Regions from separate parts of the Homo sapiens genome. Here region 2 is linked to region 1. The links come from fine-mapping of genetic effects on gene expression. A gene starts in region 1. The other region holds a variant in brackets. All regions are shown on one strand. Distances are between the middles of the regions.

Region 1 (5,384 bases):
TAGAAATGTTTGATGTAAATGTTCGTGTTTGTTTATACATATGTATTTCCCAGCAATGTTCATGACAGCAAAGACATCCCAGTAGCAATAAGCACATTAAAGCTCAGATCTTGGTTTCTAAGCAGCACCAAAAGGACCCCTGGAGAAATAACTGATTTCAGGACTGGAGTAGAGAATGTAAAAATGAGCCTGGAACATCTCTGCACCAGAAAGTAAAAAAGTGCTCAAGTAATCATGGGGAATTTTTTTTTCTCCTTTTTCGAATGTGTAAAGGAGCTTAAAGGGGGTCCCATTGGCCAAATTGGAGATGATCTGAGCATCAAAATAAATAATGATAGTAATGGATTATAACCCATTGAATAACATTGGAAATCATGAGTCCATACTGATATAAATAAATAAGTGAATGAGCTAAAAGTTGGATGAACAATCAGATTTTTATATACTTTCAAAGTACCTCCCCACAAAATTCTTATTAATAACAAAAAGGAAAAGAATAACTTTATGGTAGAGCAGCTTGGCAGACACCACCTTAAGCAAGTAATCCATTGAGCATTACAGGTAACAGGACAAATTGAAATTGTGCACAACCTGCAATGTGAAAACCGCAGCATCACTTCTGTGATAATCCTGACAAAGATGCATAATCTGAATCTAATCAAGAGAAAACATCAAACAGACCTGCACTAAGGAACCTCTACAGTATAAGCAGCCTGTAGTCTTTAATAGTGTCAAGGTCATGAAAAGGAAAAACAAAAAATCTTCCAAATTGAAGGAGACACAAGAAATATGACTAAGCAACAATGATTCCGAACTGAACCCTTTTCCTCTAAAGGACAATATTGGGACATTTGGCAAAACATAAATGGAGTCTAAGGATTAGAGAGTAGTAGTGCATCAGTATCAATGTCCTAATTTTGTTGGCTGTGTTGTGGTTATGTAGAATGCCCTGGTTTGTTTGTAGAAAATATACAATAAGTATTTGGATCATGGGGCATTAGGTCTGCAACATAGTCTCAAATGGTTCAGGAAAAAAGTTCTTTGTACTGTTATTTGTAACTTTTCCATAAATTTGTTTCAAAATAAATGAATTGCATTGATTAAAGAAAATAAAAAACTAGTTTGGACAAGTAGTTCCCGTCCTGTAGATTCTGCTGTCTTCAAAATCCAAACAAATTACATGAGCAAGAATGATGGCTCACTCCCAGCTCAATAATCCTAAAACCACCAGCACAAACCTGTAATCCAACAAAGTCAGATCTATTGACTTATTGCAATCAAGAAGACTGCACACCAGAGGAGCTGTGGTGTGTCTCACCGTACAAAATAAAAGGTAGTTATTGTATGTTTTGGCGGGGAGAGTGAAGTTTAGGTGAAATTTAAATGAAATCTCAAAGCATAGCTGTGTGTAAAGGCATTAACATCAGGTCTGGACGAGAATTGAATGTAGGGCATGTTTCCTTGGAAACTGCAAAGTTAAGAAAATACAGAATGTTTTCAGAACCGTTTATCTGAAGCTCTACACCTGGATAGAAATTGAGGCTGCTTCTCTGCGTCAAAGAGACTTAGATCCTCCAGGCAAGGATGGGACTTTTCACTCGTTCTGATATAATTTCAAATAGCAACGTTTATGTGGACTTGAAAGAACAAGGTTTCGGCCAGACGCGGTGGCTCACACCTGTAATCGCAGCACTTTGGGAGGCGGACGCGGGCGGATCACGAGGTCAGAAAATAGAGACCATCCTGGCTAACACGGTGAAACCGTGTCTACTAAAAATACAAAAAAATTAGCCGGGCGTGGTGGCGGGCACCTGTAGTCCCAGCTACTCGGGAGGCTGAGGCACGAGAACGGCATGAACCTTGGAGGCAGAGCTTGCCTCCAAGCTCTGCCACTGTACTCCAGCCTGGGCGACAGAGCGAGACTCCGTCTCAAAAAAAAAAAAAAAAAAGAAGAAATAACAAGGTTTCTCAGTGTGTAGTAAGAATGTACTTAAGTGGTAATACTTTTCCGTTGCAGCATGTCCTAAAAGAAACATTGTTTCCTCTTAACGTCGTCTGGCTTTATTTGACTCTGTTATCCATCCAGATGAAAGGCTAGGCAGTTTGTTACTTTCTCAGCCCAAGCTAAGTTTTACCGTCTCAGCAAGAACGACTCAGTCTCTCAAATCATAGCTAATTCTCCTCTGAGGGCCTTGCTGAAGTTCTGCGTTTGCTTGCTCCGCTTTCCTCTCATTTTGGACCTCCAGCCTTCCTGTAGTCCGAGGCCCTGCACCGGGGTCAAACGCGCCTCCGGTCTTCACGTAACCGTTCAAGCATCCCTCCTTCCCAGGACACACTCAAAGCGTCAGAGCGGTCCGCTCTTCTCAAGTCCTATTGGCTCAAGTCCATGCGTCTCATGGCACTGCCGGGTGAGAGGCGGAAAAAGGCCTTCCCAGGCGCGAGAAGATGACGTCACAGTAGCCCGGCCGGGCGCCGAGGTTGCCTTAGGGCTCTCTGCCCAGTAACAGGCATCGAACGGTGCAGACTGAAGACGCCCTCCGTCAGCGACGCCGTCGCAATGGCCATTTGTCAATTCTTCCTTCAAGGCCGGTGCCGCTTTGGAGATCGGTGCTGGAACGAACATCCCGGTGCTAGGGGTGCAGGAGGAGGACGGCAGCAACCGCAGCAGCAGCCTTCAGGTGACTCTCCTCTGAATCCTCCGCGGTAACCGAGCCGGGAAGGGTCCGCCGGCGGGGACCGGGCGTCCCGCGTGTTTCCCGCTGCTGGTGACCCCAACGTGCCCGCGTCGCGGCCTTGCCGGCCCTACTGGGCCCTGCACAACGTTTTTAAACCGAGGGTTTTATCTACATATTATTCATGTGGTCCGTTTTTATTGAGCTTCTGAGGACCTGGGTTTGGGCCTGGATGCTTGTGCGAAACTGAGTTTTTAAATCGGAAGTACCTATCGAAACTACCTTGTAGGTAAATGCCGGAATTGAATATAATTTTTACTAAGTTGTTTTTTCGAGGGTGAGGCTAGCAGCTTGGGTCAGAATCAGGACTTCATTTTGGAGAAGTCGTGGACTTCTTTGAAAAAATCTAATAAAACCGGCCGGGCGGTGGCTCACGCCTGTAATCCCAGCACTTTGGGAGGCCGAGGCGGGCGGATCACGAGGTCAGGAGTTTGAGACCAGCCTGACCAACATAGTGAAACACCGTCTTTACTAAAAATACCAAAAAAAAAAAAAAAAAAAAAAATAGCCGGGCGTGGTGGCGCGCGCCTGTAATCCCAGCTACTCATGAGGCTGAGACAGGAGAATCGCTTGAACCCGGGAGGTGGAGGTTGCAGTGGGCCGAGATCGTGCCACTGCACTCCAGCCTGGGCGACAGAGCGAGACTATCAAAAAAAAAAAAAGAAAGAAAGAAAAGAAAAAAAGAAAATCTAATAAAACCTATAGAGCCATACCGCAAAAATGCACCTGCTCATAAATTTGGGGTGAAATTGGGAATGTGGGACGCCCAGTTAAGGGCTATCCGGGAGGTGAGGAAAGGAGATGCGGGGGCCACGTTGATCTAGTCCCTGGGCCTAGATCATTGTCAAAGCTTTTTATCTTCAAGGAAAGGAGAGATTAGACATGAAACCTTAGAACAACACAAGATTTTTAAAGATCGGGTTAATAATTCGGTGCTGTCTCCCTTCCTTCCCCTCCTTTAGGGCTATTCATCTGACCTTTATTTTTTTATTTTATTTTGAGACGGAGTCTTGCTCTCTCAGTCAGGCGGCTCACTGCGACCTCCGCCTCCCAGGCTCAAGCGATTCTTATGCCTCAGTCTCCCGAGTAGCTGGGATTACGGGTGCCCGCCACCATGCCCTTGATAATTTTTGTATTTTTAGTAGAGACAGGGTTTTGCCATTTTGGCCATACCGGTCTCGAACTCGTGACCTAAGGTGATACTCCCGCTTCCGTCTTTCAAAGTGCTGGGATTACAGGCGTGAGCGACCGCGGCGGGCCTCATCTAACCTTTAAACCTTGTATTGCGTGATGGTTTCACGTCTGATCCCACTTCAGGGAAGACAGTCCTTTTATTTCCTCCACAATTAATCTAGTGAAATATTTCAGACCGAAAATTAGGACTCATGTCTGATGAATGTGAGTGTAAACAAAATTTGGCAGACAAATTGTATTTAGCTCCCAGAAACAAATGAATGTTTCTGGAATTATAAGTATGAAGACCAAAAGCAATGTAAAAAAAAAAAAAAAAAAAAAAAAGGAGGAAGTGAGTTTCTTCAGTTGTATCATCCCCCAGTGAATTTGGAACTTTAGAAGAAGAAGATACCATTAACTTCTACTTGAGGGATCTGGTCTAGCAATCTCCACTTTTTTTTTTTTTTTTTTTAGGGTAGTTTAGAGTTGCAGGATGAACTTTCACAACTGGGCATGTGTGTCATTCTAACTTTTAATATAATTAATGGCTTATCTCTTTATTCAGTCAGAAACAAGATGAATTACCTTAATCTTGGCCCCAACTAGGAAGTGATGAGTAAATGAGATTGCTAAAATGATTTTAAAAAACAAAACAAAACCAATATATAAAGAGAGGAGAGAATCTTTTTGGCTCATTTTGATATTTATGAAATATTGGAAAGCTGGTAGAGGAACTACATGCATTCTGTACACATGTAAATACCATGTATAATCTCTCTGTGAAAATAGGTGTGTAGGTGTTTGCCCAGAGAAAAGACTGCGTCAAATAGACTTAAGCATCTGTACAAAAACAGAGGGTAGAATGTAATCTTTCATATTCGAGAAACTTTAATTCAATGTCCATTTTTCAGCCTTTACTACAGTATAGGGCCTGGTGGGGGAGCAAAGAATGATAAAAACCCAAGTTTTTATCCTGAAGGAGTTTATGATTTATGATGCATGCCTTCTGTCAACTTTTAACTATCAAGCAGTTGTTCATTTAATAAGCTTTGTCAGCTGAATTTAGTAATATATCACTATTTTTCTATATTATTTTCTTCTCAATCTCAAACAAAAATGCAATTGGCCACTATGTGATTTGTTGATATTACAACCTAACTACTGTATATAAATAAAAAATGAAGAGATTGTCATTTAAAATGAGTTTAAATGTAGTGCTTGTTGAATCTTTCTATATTGTCTAGACATACTAAGATATAATGAAGATTTTTGAGATTTTAAAGAACAGTTGCTGGGCACAGTAGCTCATGCCTATAATTCCAGCACTTTGGGAGGCTGAGGCAGGTGGATCTCTTGAGCCCAGGAGTTTGAGACCAACCCCGGGCAATATGGCAAGACCTTATCTCTACAAAAAGTACAAAAATTAGCCAGACATGGTGGTTTGCGCCTGTGGTCCCAGCTACTCAGGAGGCTGAGGTG
Region 2 (5,384 bases), 77 kb after region 1:
TCTCTGATTTGAATAGGATTGTGACTTGAAAACCCGATAGGAAGAAAAATACATTAAATGATATCTCTACATTGGATTTTTCTGAATAATTGCTTTGTATAAAACCTTCATTGAAATATAACAAATTCAGAAAAGTGCACAAGTCATAAGCATACTATTGGATGGATTCTACATATTAAGTGTTTAGTTGTCTAACTACTTTTAAACTAGTTATGAAAAAAATACGAAAAAGTGTTTAATTCAGTGATGCATGCACATTGGGTTTTCTGAGCCTAGATAACACTCATGGCTGGTTTCTATCTCTGTTTAGAGGCTGGTTTATCTGCTGATCCGTATGTTTACAACTGGACAGCATGGTCAGAGGACAGTGACGGGGAAAATGGCACCGGCCAAAGCCATCATAACGTCTTCCCTGATGGGAAACCTTTTCCTCACCACCCCGGATGGAGAAGATGGAATTTCATCTACGTCTTCCACACACTTGGTTGGCTTTTACAAACCCCTAAGCTTCTTCTTTACCTTTCCTTAAAATTTCAACCTTCTCTTTTCTTACTCTATAATTGAGAATGATAACACAGAGAGTTAATAACAGTCACCCTGCTAACTTTCCTTAGCATGAGTGAACAGTGAGAGATAAAAATGAAATCTTGGTTAACCTTGCCAAATCTCCAGGACACCGAAGAGTTAAAAAGAGAGAAAAACAAAAAGATTAAGCTCTTTTTCAAAAAAACAAAACCACTTAATTTTTTTCTACCTAAAACCATAACAAGAAAAAATGCTAACACTTATTTATTTGAATGGCACATGGAGACCGGGCATGTGGCTCACACTTGTAATCCCAGCACCTTGGAAGGCGGAGGCGGGTGGATCACCTGAAGTCAGGAGTTCAAGACCAGCCTGGCCAACATGGTGAAGTCCCGTCCCTACTAAAAATACAAAAATTAGCCAGGTGTGGTGGTGCGCACCTGTAATCCCAGCTACTCAGGAGGCTGAGGCAGGAGAATCACTTGAATCCGGGAGGTGGAGGTTGCAGTGAGAGGAGATTGAGCCATTGCACTCCAGCCTGGGCAACAGAGTGAGACTCCATCTCGAAAAACAAACAAACAAACAAAAAACAGAATGGCACATTGATGAGCATTCATTGATTGATTCTTTAGTTTTTTTATGTTCTCTAAAGAATTTTTAAGATTTAAAGAAGCATGTGCTATTTATTTGTAGGAAATCCTCAGAAAAGGTACAAATAAAAAATAAAAATTATCCATAATTAATACCAGAGATTATAATTGTTAATTATTATGGTGTTTTCTTTGCTAGTATTTAAGATCATTATTAAGATCACATACACATTTTTGCTTACTATCATTAGCATTTGATGATATGATTTTTTTAATTTTTATACATTGTTTTAATGGCTGCACGATATTTCATTGTGTACAAATAAAATAACTACTGTTCCGCTTTGACCTAGCCCATTCTGTCTTTTTTTAAATTACAAATGGTATTCATTTTGTTGTATTATTGGGGAAATGATTACTTTTAGAAGGAGCAAATTGAGCTTATTATTAATTAGGCTGCTAAATTCTTAGTTTAAAATGTCACTAGGTGCCACCTGGCACTGAGTATTTGAAAATTGCTACCAATCAAGCAGCCTCCAGATTACTAAATATTTCATCTTTCATCACAGATTAGAGAGAGCTCCTCTTCCTTCAATTAACTTATTTACAAATCAGGACAAAATATTAACAATACATACCCATTGAACAGAGTATAAGCTATGTCAAATATTATGCTCATCTATATAAATCAATTGCCTTAAAGCTAACTTATTTTTCACTGCCATTACGACCCCATTAGCCAACTCACCAAACATTTCTTTGACTTGTCACTCTCATGACAGAATTCTGACATTTTGCATGGAGTCACTTATGTTCACTAACACTCGCCGACTCTTTAGCCTAGTAAACATTCCAATAACTTAACCAGATCAAATGTCTGTATTTAAAATCAACTTTCAGCCTAGAACTTGCTCTGTTTGTCTAACAAGACTGCCTTGAATTTCTGTCTTCCACTGAGGTCTCAGAGTTAACTGATATTCTCCCTCAACTAAGTATGGTCTCACCTCTCAGAGCTGAAACTAACATTTTCCTCACGAATAACCCCTGAGAGACATCTCTTCCCCTTATAACTTCTGATGGAACTACCCCTGCATCTCAACGTGAAGGAGGATTCCAAACCACACATCCCTGGAGAGACCAGTGTGTTTTTCTCACACGTTTGACGGTGTGATACACGGGGTCTTGAAACAACCCGGTCTCAAAAGCATGCAACCTAAGATACCCAGTCAGTGACAGGTCTAAACCAGGCCCCCTGGCAGGATTAGAAAAGTTCTTGATTTGGGAATGATAGTAAGAGGAGTTACAGAGTTTTAAAATTTGTTTAAATGTCCTTGAGCCCTGAAGGAGAGGAATTACTTCCACCTGTTAGCTAGCAGCAGGGAGGGTTGGACAAAGAAAAGGAATGACTCAGGGGTGTCCTAGGAAAGTGCCTGTGGAACCACCCCATTCTGTTTTATGTCTGCCATCCTCTATTTCATCACTTACGGGATTTTTATTTTTATTTTTTTGAGACAGAGTCTCGCTCTGTCACCAGGCTGGAGTGCAGTGGTGTGATCTCAGCTCACTGGAATCCCCGCTCCGGGTTTAACCAATTCGTCTGCCTCAGCCTCCCGAGTAGCTTGGATTACAGGCTCGTACCACCACACCTAGCTAATTTTTTGTATTTTAGTAGAGATGGAGTTTCAC[C/T]ATGTTGGCCAGGATGGTCTCCATCTCCTGACCTCGTGATCCGCCTGCCTCGGCCTCCCAAAATGCTGGGATTACAGGCATGAGCTACCGCGCCCAGCCACTTGCTGTATTTTTATATACAAATACTATTAGGAGATGGAGGATTCCAGTCCCCTTTTAAAAATCCACTTAATAATATAGCGGAAATAGTAACAAAAATAAGGTAGGTTATTGGATAAATAATTTTTTTAACTCTTCTGGACACCTCATCATTATATTAAATGTATTTTCTATGGGGAAAACATGTATTTCAAGTGCCAAATTACTTAGCACAAACAGCATTTATTTGTAAACTAAGGGCTAACTGTTTTATGCCACTAAACAGCTTTTTAAATTTTAACCAACTGTATACAATTACATGTATACAACTGTGGGTTTGTTTTATAAGATTTTACATTAAAATGAGCACCATCTCCCTTTCTGAAGCAGCACCACAGGCCCATCCTATTTTCCCTCCTCAGAGCAATCTATAAATGGTGGTAGCTAGTCTTTAAGGAACAGCTTCCTATAATGATGATATAATGCAGCCAATAACTAAAAATTTCCATCCTCCCAAAGGTCAGTATTTCCAGAAATTGGGACGATGTTCAGTGAGAGTTTCTGTGAACACAGCCAATGTGACACTTGGGCCTCAACTCATGGAAGTGACTGTCTACAGAAGACATGGACGGGCATATGTTCCCATCGCACAAGTGAAAGATGTGTACGTGGTAACAGGTGAGTGGTGTGAACTCTAACTGAGGATGAGGCACTTCATTCTGTTGACGTCAATGGGTTAAAAAAGAGGTAAGGCCAAGTGTTCGGGGTTAGGTTACAATGCATCTGGCCCACCTAAGCTTGTGTATTTAATTAGTTGTAGTTCATCTGTTTTCCAGAATAGCTTAGGGAAACCCCAGAAAACTTGCATGTGAAAAGGAAAATAATGCTAAATTATCCCTCATTTTAATATTTCAACCTAAAAGCATCGTCGAAGCCCTCCACTTACAATCAAGCAATCATGCATTCTTTATTTCTTTGGGGGATGTATCTTTTAGATCAGATTCCTGTGTTTGTGACTATGTTCCAGAAGAACGATCGAAATTCATCCGACGAAACCTTCCTCAAAGATCTCCCCATTATGTTTGATGTCCTGATTCATGATCCTAGCCACTTCCTCAATTATTCTACCATTAACTACAAGTGGAGCTTCGGGGATAATACTGGCCTGTTTGTTTCCACCAATCATACTGTGAATCACACGTATGTGCTCAATGGAACCTTCAGCCTTAACCTCACTGTGAAAGCTGCAGCACCAGGACCTTGTCCGCCACCGCCACCACCACCCAGACCTTCAAAACCCACCCCTTCTTTAGGTAAGGTTTCGCAGTGATCTTTGAGGGAGGCTCCTTAATGGCTAACAAAATATTCACGCAGGTCATATTATTAAATCCCTCCTTAAGGGGATATTGTAAGGACTCTGCGGTGATTCCATTTTCTACCTGTTGATTTTTTAAAGCAAAGTTATCACCATTTTACACCTATAGAACACAGAAGAAGGAAGAATGTATGTAAAGTCACTTTGCAAATAGAATTCAGTGACTTGTAGAAAGTTCTTTGACCCTCCTCATTTGCACTGGTCCCTGCTATGTGTACACACTCTCCCCTCTTCTAACCTGTCACATTTTTGTTTATCTCCCATTTTTTATGGCTATGAGAAGGCACACTGGCTCCTTATACGATCAGGTCATTTCTATGTTCCTTCCTCTCCCCCACTAATTTCTTTCCCTACCCTGCCCACACCTACCCAGTGTCCATGAAAACACAGCTGTACTTGAAAGCAATTTCCAAATGGTCCAAGAAAGAATGTAGCTTGAGAGTATGTCTGGGTTAGCAAGCTGCAGTGACTCCTGACATTAAAATTGTGCTGCATCGTATGTTTATTGCGGCACTATTCACAATAGCAAAGACTTGGAATGAACCCAAATGTCCATCAATGATAGACTGGATTAAGAAAATGTGGCACATATACACCATAGAATACTATGCAGTCATAAAAAAGGATGAGTTCATGTCCTTTGTAGGAACATGGATGAAGCTGGAAACCATCATTCTGAGCAAACTATCACAAGGACAGAAAACCAAACGCCGCATGTTCTCATTCACAGGTGGGAACTGAACAATGAGAACACTTGGACACAGGGCGGGGAACATCACACACCAGGGCCTGTCGGGGGGTAGGGGTAGGGAGGCGGGATGGCATTAACAGAAATACCTATTGTAAATGACGAGTTAATGGGTGCAGCACACCAACATGGCACATGTATACATATGTAACAAACCTGCACTTTGTGCACATGTACCCTAGAACTTAAAGTAAAATTTAAAAAAAAGAGAAAAATAAATAAAAATAAAACTGTGCTGCATTTAAGGCATGATTAATTCAATACCACCCTATATTAATAGTCTGGGGACATTCAAGAAGTCCTTAAGAGTCCACTTTGGGTAGCACTGGCTTCCATCTGATTCCCCACGCTACCCCATGCCATCACCACCCTTTTCCCACTG

What was found. PIP is the estimated chance that this variant, and not a neighbour inherited with it, causes the effect.
Region 2: its variant is fine-mapped to the expression of NUP42 in whole blood (TOPMed, PIP above 0.99).

Annotation. Positions count from the first base shown.
Region 1 is chr7:23,179,529-23,184,912 of GRCh38, forward strand. NUP42 (nucleoporin 42) reads left to right here and starts at 2,520. Exons shown (of 7, transcript NM_007342.3): 1 at 2,520-2,678. The coding sequence starts at 2,558. RefSeq lists enhancers at 2,115-2,714, 2,815-2,884.
Region 2 is chr7:23,256,582-23,261,965 of GRCh38, forward strand. GPNMB (glycoprotein nmb) reads left to right here. Exons shown (of 11, transcript NM_002510.3): 4 at 311-484; 5 at 3,399-3,557; 6 at 3,875-4,192. Among named protein-coding and RNA genes, the nearest start is that of GPNMB, 12 kb to the left of the region's middle. RefSeq lists a silencer at 2,196-2,396. The variant C/T (reference allele first, on the strand shown) is at 2,802.